Linked DNA regions of Homo sapiens. The protein of the gene in region 1 purifies or fractionates together with the protein of each later gene. This does not show direct contact. Each region holds a gene or a part of one and is shown in the gene's direction. Other genes may lie near its edges. The genes, in order: ZBTB49, FBXL17 and UTP25.

Evidence for each region.
Region 2: the proteins of ZBTB49 (region 1) and FBXL17 purify together in Homo sapiens (co-immunoprecipitation; one large-scale study listed by IntAct). This does not show direct contact.
Region 3: the proteins of ZBTB49 (region 1) and UTP25 purify together in Homo sapiens (affinity purification with mass spectrometry; one large-scale study listed by BioGRID and IntAct). This does not show direct contact.

The regions. Positions count from the first base shown.
Region 1 is NC_000004.12:4,307,218-4,310,871, forward strand, and holds part of ZBTB49 (zinc finger and BTB domain-containing protein 49), read left to right. Parts: intron 1-3,654. UniProt on the Homo sapiens protein: Transcription factor. Inhibits cell proliferation by activating either CDKN1A/p21 transcription or RB1 transcription.
Region 2 is NC_000005.10:108,358,071-108,361,724, reverse strand, and holds part of FBXL17 (F-box/LRR-repeat protein 17), read left to right. Parts: intron 1-3,654. UniProt on the Homo sapiens protein: Substrate-recognition component of the SCF(FBXL17) E3 ubiquitin ligase complex, a key component of a quality control pathway required to ensure functional dimerization of BTB domain-containing proteins (dimerization quality control, DQC).
Region 3 is NC_000001.11:209,837,854-209,841,507, forward strand, and holds part of UTP25 (U3 small nucleolar RNA-associated protein 25 homolog), read left to right. Parts: intron 1-1,055; coding exon 1,056-1,275; intron 1,276-2,999; coding exon 3,000-3,202; intron 3,203-3,654. UniProt on the Homo sapiens protein: Component of the ribosomal small subunit processome for the biogenesis of ribosomes, functions in pre-ribosomal RNA (pre-rRNA) processing. Essential for embryonic development in part through the regulation of p53 pathway.

The DNA.
Region 1 (3,654 bases):
GCCTGGGGCCATGTCTTCTCTCCCATCCAGGAGAACACCCAGCAGCCAGCAGATGCTCAGGAAGGATTTGATAAGCTGAGCTGAGTGCTCGTCCCTCCAGCCGCCATTCTTGATGAGCCTCCGCTTCTTCCTGCCAGCCTGGCCTGGGGTTCAGAGCTTGGCCTCTGGGGCTGGACAGTCTAGAACTGAGCTCTGCCTCTGTCAGGGCGTCACTACCCTGTGACTTTGGGCAGTCTCACCTTTTGCCCCTTCAGTTTCCTTATCTGTGAAACACGGATAACAAGATTAGTTAACCTCATAGAGTGTGAGGAGTAAATGAGGTAATAACGGAAAGTCCTTAGAGCAGGGCCTGGCACATAGTAAGCGCTCAAGAAACGCCAGCATTCCCTACCTTGTTGCCATCCGCTTTCTCCTCTCCTGTCCATCCTCATGACCCCCAGATGCCGGTCTTTCTGAGGCACCTCCCCGCCCCCACCGTTTTCATCTCAGCAGCTGTGGTTTGATGGGAAAAGCATGAGACTCGGACTAATGACCATGAATAATTAGCAATTGCGACTTCTCTGGGCCTCATTTTTCTAATTCTTAAAATAGGGATAATACTACTTCGTGGAACTAGTGGGAAAATGAAATGAAAAACTAGAGCTGAAAGCCCTTTATACATTTAAATTATGTTGAGAGTAGAAGTTCCATCCTTCTCATGCTTTCTCTGACTCTCCATAGCTGACCATATAAGTTAAAACCCGACATTCAGTCAGGCTGCAGTCCACCTCCACTCCTCTCTCCTGGCACGGATCCTTGGTGCCCACATCAGAGATTCTGATTCTGTGATTTGGAGTGGGGCTTAGGTATTGATGTTTTATTTATTTATTTATTTATTTTTGATGGAGCATCGCTCTGTCGCCCAGGCTGGAGTACAGTGGCGCAATCTGGGCTCACTGCAACCTCTGCCTCCCAGGTTCAAACGATTGTCTTGCCTTAGCCTCCCAAGTAGCTGGGACTACAGGTGCGTTCCACCACGCCCAGCTCAGTTTTTATATTTTTAGTAGAGATGGGGTTTCACCATGTTGGCCAGGATGGTCTCAAACTCCAGACCTCATGATCCACCAGGCTCAGCCTCCCAAAGTGCTGGGATTACAGGCGTGAGCCACCGTGCCCAGCCACGTATCAGTATTTTTAAAAATTCAGCAATTTTGGTGTGCAGCCAAGGTTGAGAACCACCACTATAGCTCTTGACCTGCACTTGCTCTCTTAAATCTTACCAAGGGTAGCCCTGCCCGATCCAGAAACCCTTCCCTTCTGTATTGGTCTGTGTACTTTTGTTAGGTTTCTGTGATTGTAGAGTCATACATAGTGATAGTTTTCAGATGTATATTGCTGCTTTATTTTCATAGTAAAGTATGAATTTTGATGAACAAGGAACTGTTTTAATGTTTGTTGCAAGCCTACAGTGTCCATGTGCTGTCCATGAGCTCTGCTGTGTGCCGGGAAGGGGGACAGAAATGGCCATGGCCTCCAGGAGCTTATTGTTTAGAGGAAGCAACAGACGTGTAAATGATCGAGTACAGTGAAATGTTGGAACTGCTGACAGTTATCTACGGGAACAGTGTGGGCAAAGAAAAGGCAGTAGTCCTTTCTACCTGAAAGGTGTGTTTGGGACAGCATGAGGCCATGAAATGCTTGAGAGATTGCTTAGGTGAGCCCTGCAGACAAGCAGGCACTGGGCAAGCCTGGCATCCCTGGCATGCTGGGGCAAGAAAGCAGTCAGATTGTCTGCATAGGGATGCGTGGTAAAGAATGCCCACCGGCCCATCCTCCACCGTATGCCTAACATTATTTTCTTGTAATGAACTAGAATAAATGTTTGTGGTTACATGGAATTGGAATGCTGTTGTATAAAAACATTTACAAATAAGAATCCCTCATCCTGCTTACTGAGAATTTAGTATTTAGTAGGTTAGTCTTTTTAAAATAGTTAACCGCAGCCTGCATTATGAGGATGGCATGCCAGCATAAGGAAGTTAGCATCATCTTAGAGTGACCACAGAAGCTGCATCTGTCCGTGTGACTGGACACTGTATGTGTCCAGATCTCTGCAGGGAAGAGTCATGTCATACTTTAACGGAAGAGTCATGTCCTACTTTAGAGTATGACTGAGTCGCAGTCAGAGGGAAGTGTTTCCTCTGTGGCGTAGAACATGGACTGTTTGGAGGGCACTGGAGAGAACCAAAAGAGTGACAAGTTTTGAGCGCTTGTCATTTGAGAAACGGGAAAGAAAATGCGGCGTAATTACCTGTCTTTGGGGAGAGGAGTAGGATTGCTTTTGTTCCTCCAAGTAGGCAGAAACAGAAACACTGGGCAGCTGGTACAGAGAGACGGGTTTTGAGAGGCAGTACTCTGCCAGCAGCGCCGTCTAGCCAGCTGTCTGCCCGAGTCCGGGGGTCCTAGTGCCTTCTGCAGGATTACCCTATAGGAGGCATTTCCAGGGTGCTGATGTGGACTCATGCCAGAGGTGACAGTGTCAGCCATCCATGGTGGAAACACAAAAATAAGGACACTTAGTGAGCTTGGCCCAAGCTATTACATTGTCATCTCTGAGGTTATATTTGCCACACCTTTACCGTTGAATGTCCTTTTATCAAAATAGCAGTCATTGTTTAAGTGATATCTCTATGTTAAACCTTACATTTTTTTCTTTTTAATTTTATCGCTGTGTGAAATCCTAAAGTCTTGAAACTCCTGAGCTAGCTGACTTTTAATATCTGGGATCTCTTTTATCTCTAAATGATTACGATTCCTGACTTTTTTTTGATATAAACACTCAACTGCCGTTAAGAGTGCTCATGATAGGGAATAGATGCTGGGTTTGTTCATGTTTAAATACTGAGGTTCAAGTACCTGTCAGAAGGAGTTTATTATAAAAATTGCTGAAGGCAGATGTTAATTCTTCTCTACAGCATAGTTTTTCTGTTAAAAATTCTAACTCCATTTGAAGGTAAAATGGTATTAGAAAGGATCAAAGTTCCTTTACTGCTAATATCGTTAACATAGGTTTAACAGTCCAAACTTTGGAGTCACTAGGCAAACCTGAATTAGTGAATTCAGTCCCCATTTTATGACCCAAGGCTGGTTACTAACCTCTCAGAGCCTCTGTTGACTTCTCTGTAAAACATGGATAATACTGCTTTACAAGACATTGTGATGACTAAGTTAAATACTCTTCGCAACGGTTTAGCAAAGAGCTTCATTCATAGTAAGTTCTTAATAAACGAGAGCTATTATTACCACTTGCTAGAATTTTTTTTTTTTTTTTGAGATGGAGTCTTGCTCTGTTGCCCAGGCTGGAGTGCAGTGGCATGATCTCGGCTCACTGCAAGCTCCACCTCCTGGGTTCACGCCATTCTCCTGCCTCAGCCTCCTGAGTAGCTGGGACTACAGGCGCCCGCCACCATGCCTGGCTAATTTTTTTTTTTTTTTTGTATTTTTAGTAGAGACGGGGTTTCACCATGTTAGCCAGGATGGTCTCGATCTCCTGATCTCATGATCCACCTGCCTCAGCCTCCCAAAGTGCTGGGATTACGGGCATGAGCCACTGCGCCCGGCCTACTTGCTAGAATTTTTATGGACACAACTATAGGTGATTTCTAAGACATGGTC
Region 2 (3,654 bases), on another chromosome or scaffold:
TTGAACACAGTATAAGGCAAATGAAAGAAACTTGCTTTTGAGCAAGCTTCTTTGGGCAATAGATTATGGTGAGACATACAATTGACCTAGGAGAAAGAGCCTGGGAGAGAGTTTGTTTTTATTTTTGTTTTTGTTTTGAAATTAGGACAATCAGCCTCAGTGTATAGAAGGGAATTTTGAAAGCCGCATGCATGCCCAGGGCAGGACACTTGTTCAGGAACGACCTAAGAAGACTGTAAACTTTATCACTGTGTGCTTGCTAGGTCCAGTACAAGCAGGAAGTAAAGGCCAAGGCAGAGTTGTGAATGGTATGGCTAAGTCTTAAAGAAATATCCCAGCACAGAGCCAGTCTGCAAAGACTTGAATAAGTGCTTTTGTTTTTTGTTTTAGTTTTGTTTTTAAGCTTTGGCATCCAAGGAAATCTCTTTCAAAACACTGGCTGAACACAAGCTAAGCCTTGATTAATCAAAAATAGTGAAGCGTAGGGAAGTGGGGAGAATCTAATTTCCCAAGTTACCACATTATAATCTAATATTTTAATATTTAGTTTTCAACAATAAATTACAAGGCATGCAAAGAAAAAAGTATTACCCATTAAAACAAAAAAGAATAAATAGAACCCATTCTTGAGGAAGCCTGGACATTGGATTTACTAAAGATTTTACTAAAGATTTTAAATCCATTATCTGAAATATGCTCAAAGACATAAAGGAAACCATGGCCAAAGAAATGAAGGAAATTAGGAAAATAATGTATGAACAAATTGAGAATGTCAATGAAGAGCTAGAAATTATGGAAAGAACCAAATAGAAATTCTGGAGCTAAGAAGTACAATAACTGAAATAAAACATTTACCAGAGGGATTCAAGAGCCGAAGTGAGCAGGTGGAAGAAAGAAGATAGGACAATTGAATTTATTGAGTCTAAGAAAGAGAAAGAAAAAAGAGTGAAGAAAAGTAAGTAGAGCCTAAGAGATGGGTGGGACATCCATCAAGCAGAAAAACATTCACATTTTGCTAATTCCAGAAGGAAAGGAGAAATAAAAGGGGCAGGAAGAATATTTGCAGAAATAATGGCCCAAACTTCCGAAATTTGGTGGAAGATACGCATCTATACGTCCAAGAAACTCAATAAATTCAGGGAGGATAATGTCAAAGAGATATACACTGAGACACATTATAGTATAATTGTCAGAAGTCAAAGACAGAATCTTCAAAGCAGCAAAAGATAAGTGACTCATCACATACAAGCACTCCTCAATAAGATTTACAACTGTTTTATCATCAGAAACTATGGAAGCCAGAAAGCTGTGGGCTAACAATATTTAAAGTGTCGAAAGAAAAAAAAGTCAAGCAAGAATTCTGTATTTGTCAAAACTGTTAAAGAATAGGGGCACTCAAGGGGACATTAAGATATTTCCAGATAAGCAAAAGCTAAAGGAGTTTGTTACTAATAGATCTGCCCTACAAGAAATGCTAACGGGAGTCCTCCAGGCTGAAATAAGATGCTAGATGGTAATTGAAAGCCATATGAAGAATAAAGAAAACTGATGAAAGTAACTACATAGAGGTTGAAAGGATGGAAAAAGATATTCCACACCAGAAGAGAGCTATAATAGCTGTTTTATTATCCAAAAAAACCAGGTTTTAAGTCCAAAAGGGATCCAAGAGACAGAATTATTATATATTGATAAATATAAAATATTAATCTTTCAGGAAGATGTAGCAATTATAACCACATATGTACCTAACAACAGAATCCTTAAAATATATATAGCAAAAATTGAAAGACTTGGAGAGAGGAATAGACAGTTGTACATTAATCATTTGAGACTTAAGTAATTCACTTTCAATAATGAATAGCACAACTAGGAAGAAGATTAACAAAGAAGCAGAGGATGAACAGTACCATGAACCCACTGCACCTAGCAGATATGTACAGTACACTCAACAACAAAAGAATACACATTCTTCTCAAGTGCACATGGAACAGTCTCACAGATAGACCATATGTTTGATCACAAAACAAGTTTTATACATTTAAAAAAGATTGAAATCATACAGTGTGTCTTCCCTAACCATAATGGAATGAATCTGGAAATCAATAATAGAAGGAAAATTGGAAAATACACAGATATGTAGAAATTAAATAACAGAGTCTTGTACAACCAATGGCTTATAGAAGAAATTACAAGGGAAATTAGAAAATATCTTGAGATGAGTGAGAATGAAAACACAGCGTTCCAAAACTCAAGGGATGTAGCAAAAGCAGTGCTCAGAGGGCAGTTTATAGCTGTACAATCTTACATTAAAAAAGAAGATCTGAAAGCAGTAATCAAAGCGTACACCTTGAGAAAGAAGAGCAGGCTAAACCCAAAGTTCGTGGAGGGAAGGAAATAATAACCAGACCAGAGATAAACATGATAGAGGACAGAAAAGCTATGGAAAAAAATTATTGAAAACCAAACTAGGTTCTTCGAAAAGATTTTAAAAAACTCTGACAAACCTTTAACTAGATTGACTAAGAAAAAAGACTCAAATTATTAAATCATAAATGAAAGAGTAGACATTACTACTGACTTTATAGAAATTAAAAAGGATTGTATGAGAAAACCATGAATAACTGCATACCAACAAATTGGATAGGCTAGAAGAAATGGAAAAATTTCTAGAAATACAGAAACCAGAAAAACTGACCCAAGAAGTAGAAATTCTGAGTTCCAGCTACTCATGAGCCTGAGGCAGGAGGATTGCTTGAGCCCAGGAGGCTGAAGCTATATTCACTGCACTCCAGCTAGGGCAATATAGCAAGACCCCATCTCTTAACAAAAAAAGAAAAAGGTAGAAAATTGGAATATATTTATAATAAATAAGGAGATTGAATCAGTTAAAAAAATTTCCAATGAAGAAAGACTAAGGACCATAGCTTTGATGGTGAATGTTTTCAAATATTTAAAGAAGAATTAACACCAGTCCTTCTCAAACTCTTTCAAAAAAATTGAAGAGGAGGCAACACTTCTTAACTTATTCTGTGGGGCTAGCATTAGCCAGCCCAAGACCCTACAAAAATGAAACTACAAAACAAACAACAGCTACAGACAAGTATCTTTAACGAGTATGTAAAAATCTTCAAAATGCTAGCAAACTGAATTCAGCACCAGATTAAAAGGATTCTACACCGTAACCTACTATGATTTATCCAAGGAGTACAAGGGTGGCTCAACATACAAATATCAATCAATGTAATATACCACATTAAGAGAATGAAAGGAAAAAAAAACCAGTCATCTTAATTGGTGTGCAAAAGCATTTGGTGAAATAAGCAGCCTTTCTTGAAAAAGCAAAGCAAAACAAAAACCTATCAAACTAGGAATAGAGTGATGCTTCCTCATCATAATAAAGACCATATGTGACAAACCCACAGCTGACATATTCAGTGATAAAAGGTGGAAAACTTTTTCCTTAAGATCAAGAATAAGACAAGAATGCCTGCTTTTGGCAATCCTGTTTTACATTGTGCTGAAAGTTCTAAGGAGCAATTTGGCAAGAAAAAGAAATAAAATGCTTCCAAATTGGAAAGGAAGAAGTAAAACTATTTGTATTCGAAGATGACATTATTTTATGAATAGAAAACCCCAGAGAAACCACAAAAAACC
Region 3 (3,654 bases), on another chromosome or scaffold:
TCCCCCTGCCCTGAACTGCATCTCTCCGTATTGAAGAAGCCTCATCTTTTTAGAATTTTCTCATTGAGTTTAATAGGATTCTAGAAATTTGATACTAATGTGGCCTTTAGAGATTTCTTAGTCAAACTCCCTTGTGTAATAGCGGGGGAAACCAAAGCCCCGACGCTTACTGTCACCGCTGGAACAATAACCCAGTCCTCTTAAATCTTGGTCCACCATCTCTGCAACTGTACCAAGCTGAGTCCACTGCACTCCTTGGGGCTTGAACATCAGGGTTATAAGGTTGTTTCCATTTAGAATTACATAGAAGAATAAGAGGCAGATTATCTATGAAACATATTATAATTTGGTGAATTACGTGATTTAACTGGGGTTATGTCCATTGTTTACAATAGGAAATTAGAAATTAACCATTTTTTAAGCATCTTCGGTTTTTATTCTCAACAGTAACTTTAAATATTTTTGAATATGCTTAGAAAGCTGAGTCCTGTTTTTCCCATTAATTGTGGTCATTTTTTTTTAGAAATGCTTTATTGTCATTTCTGAAACACTGTATAGAGAATGCACTAGAAATGTAATGATGTGTTAATCCTTTTTCTTACCCGCTTTATTTCTTCTCTACTTGTTCCATTTATTTATTCGACATGTATTTATTCACTGTGTCTTTAGGATAAAAATATTGCACTAATTCTGTGGGAGACACAGAAATCTTTCCCTCAAAGAGCTCATGTGTTTATGTCCTTGAGTTTTTACTGGTAGACGTATCTGTTAGAGGCATTGGCTTATTGTAAAAGGTATTTCCAAATTCTGCTTGAGAAATGTCTCACGTGGACTGATGGGTCTGAAGTCCGCAGGTCATGGTGCTGGGGTTATGAAAGGTGCTCAGTTTCTGGTGTTGAGCCAAGCCCTGCGCAAAGCGGGTAACATAGGTATGTTTCTTGGCTGGGGGCCACTGCTCTACATGGAGCTTTTTAGCTCCACTTCCTCAGCAGTTTCACCTCAAGATCCTGTTCCTTCCTCTTACCCCACTAAGGCTGCTGTTGCTGTCTGCACAGGTACTGATAGTGGTGCCATTCCGGGAAGCTGCTTTGCGGGTGGTGCAGCTCTTCATCAGCCTCCTCGAGGGTGACAGCAAGAAGAAAATCATTGTGAGCAACAAAAAGAGGTTTCAGGGAGAATATGGATCAGATCCCGAGGAGAGACCACCCAACTTGAAGAGGCCTGAGGATTATGAAGCCGTATTTGTGGGCAATATTGATGACCACTTCAGGATTGGTAATTCTTCCTTATCAACTTTGAGACCTAAAGTGTGAAGGTCTACATAGCTGGAGACCAGAAGCTGGAATTAGATATTTTCCCAGTGGATCACTCACTGTGCCTCTTTAACAGAACCAGTGTGCCTTTGAGACATGTTGTTTGCCATGGGAGAGTCTTGCCTTGGCTAATGGGGTGGACATTAGGCCAGTGGAGTCGGGAGGATCTCTGAGGCCATATATGAAAGGCACATGTACATTTATAACAGAAATTTATAGCAAGTTTATAACAGAAGTGTGAAAGCACACCCATAGCTGGTAGCAGATAGATGCTACAAGGGGTTCTCTAGGATGTTGGAAGTGATGGGGCTGATGGGGTCATTCTGGGGAGGCTGAATAAAATGACTGTCTCTACATAAAGGTGGACTTTCTCCTGTGTGCTACATAGATGCCTACCCTGAATAATCTCCACACATGACTTCCACCCAAATTTTCACATTTTTGCTTGTCTCTCATTCAGCTCCCATTGACTTTGGTTGGTTATACCTTTTATAGAGTAAAGTTCTTGGGGAAATGTTCATTAGTCACATATGCTCATTCACAAATACTTATTGAGTATCTACAGTGTGCCAGGCACTGTTAAGAAGCTGGGAATCTACAGATAAATATAGAAATAAAAGTTATAGTTCCCATTGCTAAGGAAATCCAGCCTACGACAGAGCAGGCAGTGCAGGATATGTGTGCAACGGTTGTTCTCGGAGCATTTAAAGCAAACCCCCTTACCCAAAATGGGGGCAGGGTGGTTAGGGAAGATGTCGTGGTGGAGGTGTCATCTGTACTAGGTGGAAACCTGTGTAGGATTCAGCCAGTTTCAAAGGGAGGTGGCTGAGTGGAGGAAAACATTTCAGACAGGAAACTGCCTGTTGCAGAGGCATCAGGGTGACTAAGCTTGGAATGACCTATGATTCACACAGGCTTCGGTATGGTGGAATGTAAGGCATAAGGAGACAAGAGCTCGTGTTTTGTTTGGAACATATATAGCTGTCCAGGAAGCAGTTGGTATATTGTTCTGGAGCTCAGGAAAAAGATATGGGCTGGAAATACACATTTGTGTGAAGGTGACATTAAAGCCATGATCAGTGAGTCAGTTAACCCAAAGCTTTATGCAGCACGAGAGCAGAGCTGACAAGTGAATCCACCAGTTTGCAGAAGAGTTATTTGGATCTGGAAGGACAGACAAGGGCCAGGTCAGTGATAGAAGCAAAAGTGAGAGTTGAAGTCATGGAAACTATTAGCAAGGAAAAGAGCATTGCAAGGCAGCTGTTAGTACATTCTGTGCCGTTTGTACTTTCCTCATAAGAAGCTCTCAAAAGTGTTCATCCTGTTGGTGACTGAGGACTGTGGGGACCTTAGCAAGAGTCATTTCTCTGGAGTCCTGAGAATCAGAGGCCGGATTGCAGTGGAGTGAGAAGTGAAGGAGAGATTTGAAAGTAGAGAGAATTCTCTGGAGCAGTTTGATAGTGACGGAAAGGAAGAGAAGGTAGAAGCTAGAAGGGACTATAGATGCAAGGGAGAGATTTCTCTTGTTCTTATGTTTTAATAATTAAAGCAGTTGAGCACAGTTACATGCTAAGAGGAACAAAAGAGATGTGGAAGCAATAGAAGTGGTGGACTGCTTTGAGAGGGTGGAAGGTAATGGCTTGGTAGTGACTAATGAATTGGTGTGTACTTGGCTGTTTTGTGTAGGAGTGGCAATACTTCAGAGAAGCATCCGACTCTATGCCCCGTTTTACTCCTCGGATATCCTCATTGCTTCCCCCCTGGGCTTGAGGACCATCATTGGTGGAGAAGGAGAGAAGAAGAGAGATTTTGACTTTCTGTCTTCTATCGAGCTTCTCATCATTGATCAAGCTGACATTTACCTGATGCAGAACTGGGAGCATGTCCTGGTAATGCTGGCCATTCACATTCAGTGGGACAGTATTCATATTTAGAGGGATAAGACACCCAGTGGTTTAAGTCCTAAAGAATTATTTAAGTCCAGATTAGAACTCTTGTTTGGAAGCAAGGACACACACTCCACATTTTCTAATTTGAAAAAGTCTTTTGTCCCCTTTTCTACCCAGAGATTGTCCATAATTAAACTGTCTACAGATTAAAATTCCTGTCAGTCATTTTCAAATCTCCAGAAAAGATTTCTTTCCCTTAAAATTTCTTTCTACTAACTTTAGGGTGGGTGGATGGGTGGATGGGATAGGTTGATGGATGGATGGGTCCTCACCAGGAACATCTTTACCTAACATAATCCCACATGTGGTTTTTGCTTATGCTGTTTTGTTTGGTCTTTGGTGAAGATGGGAATACCCTGCTCAAGATTTTTTAAGGTGGGATCTTGTTTTGT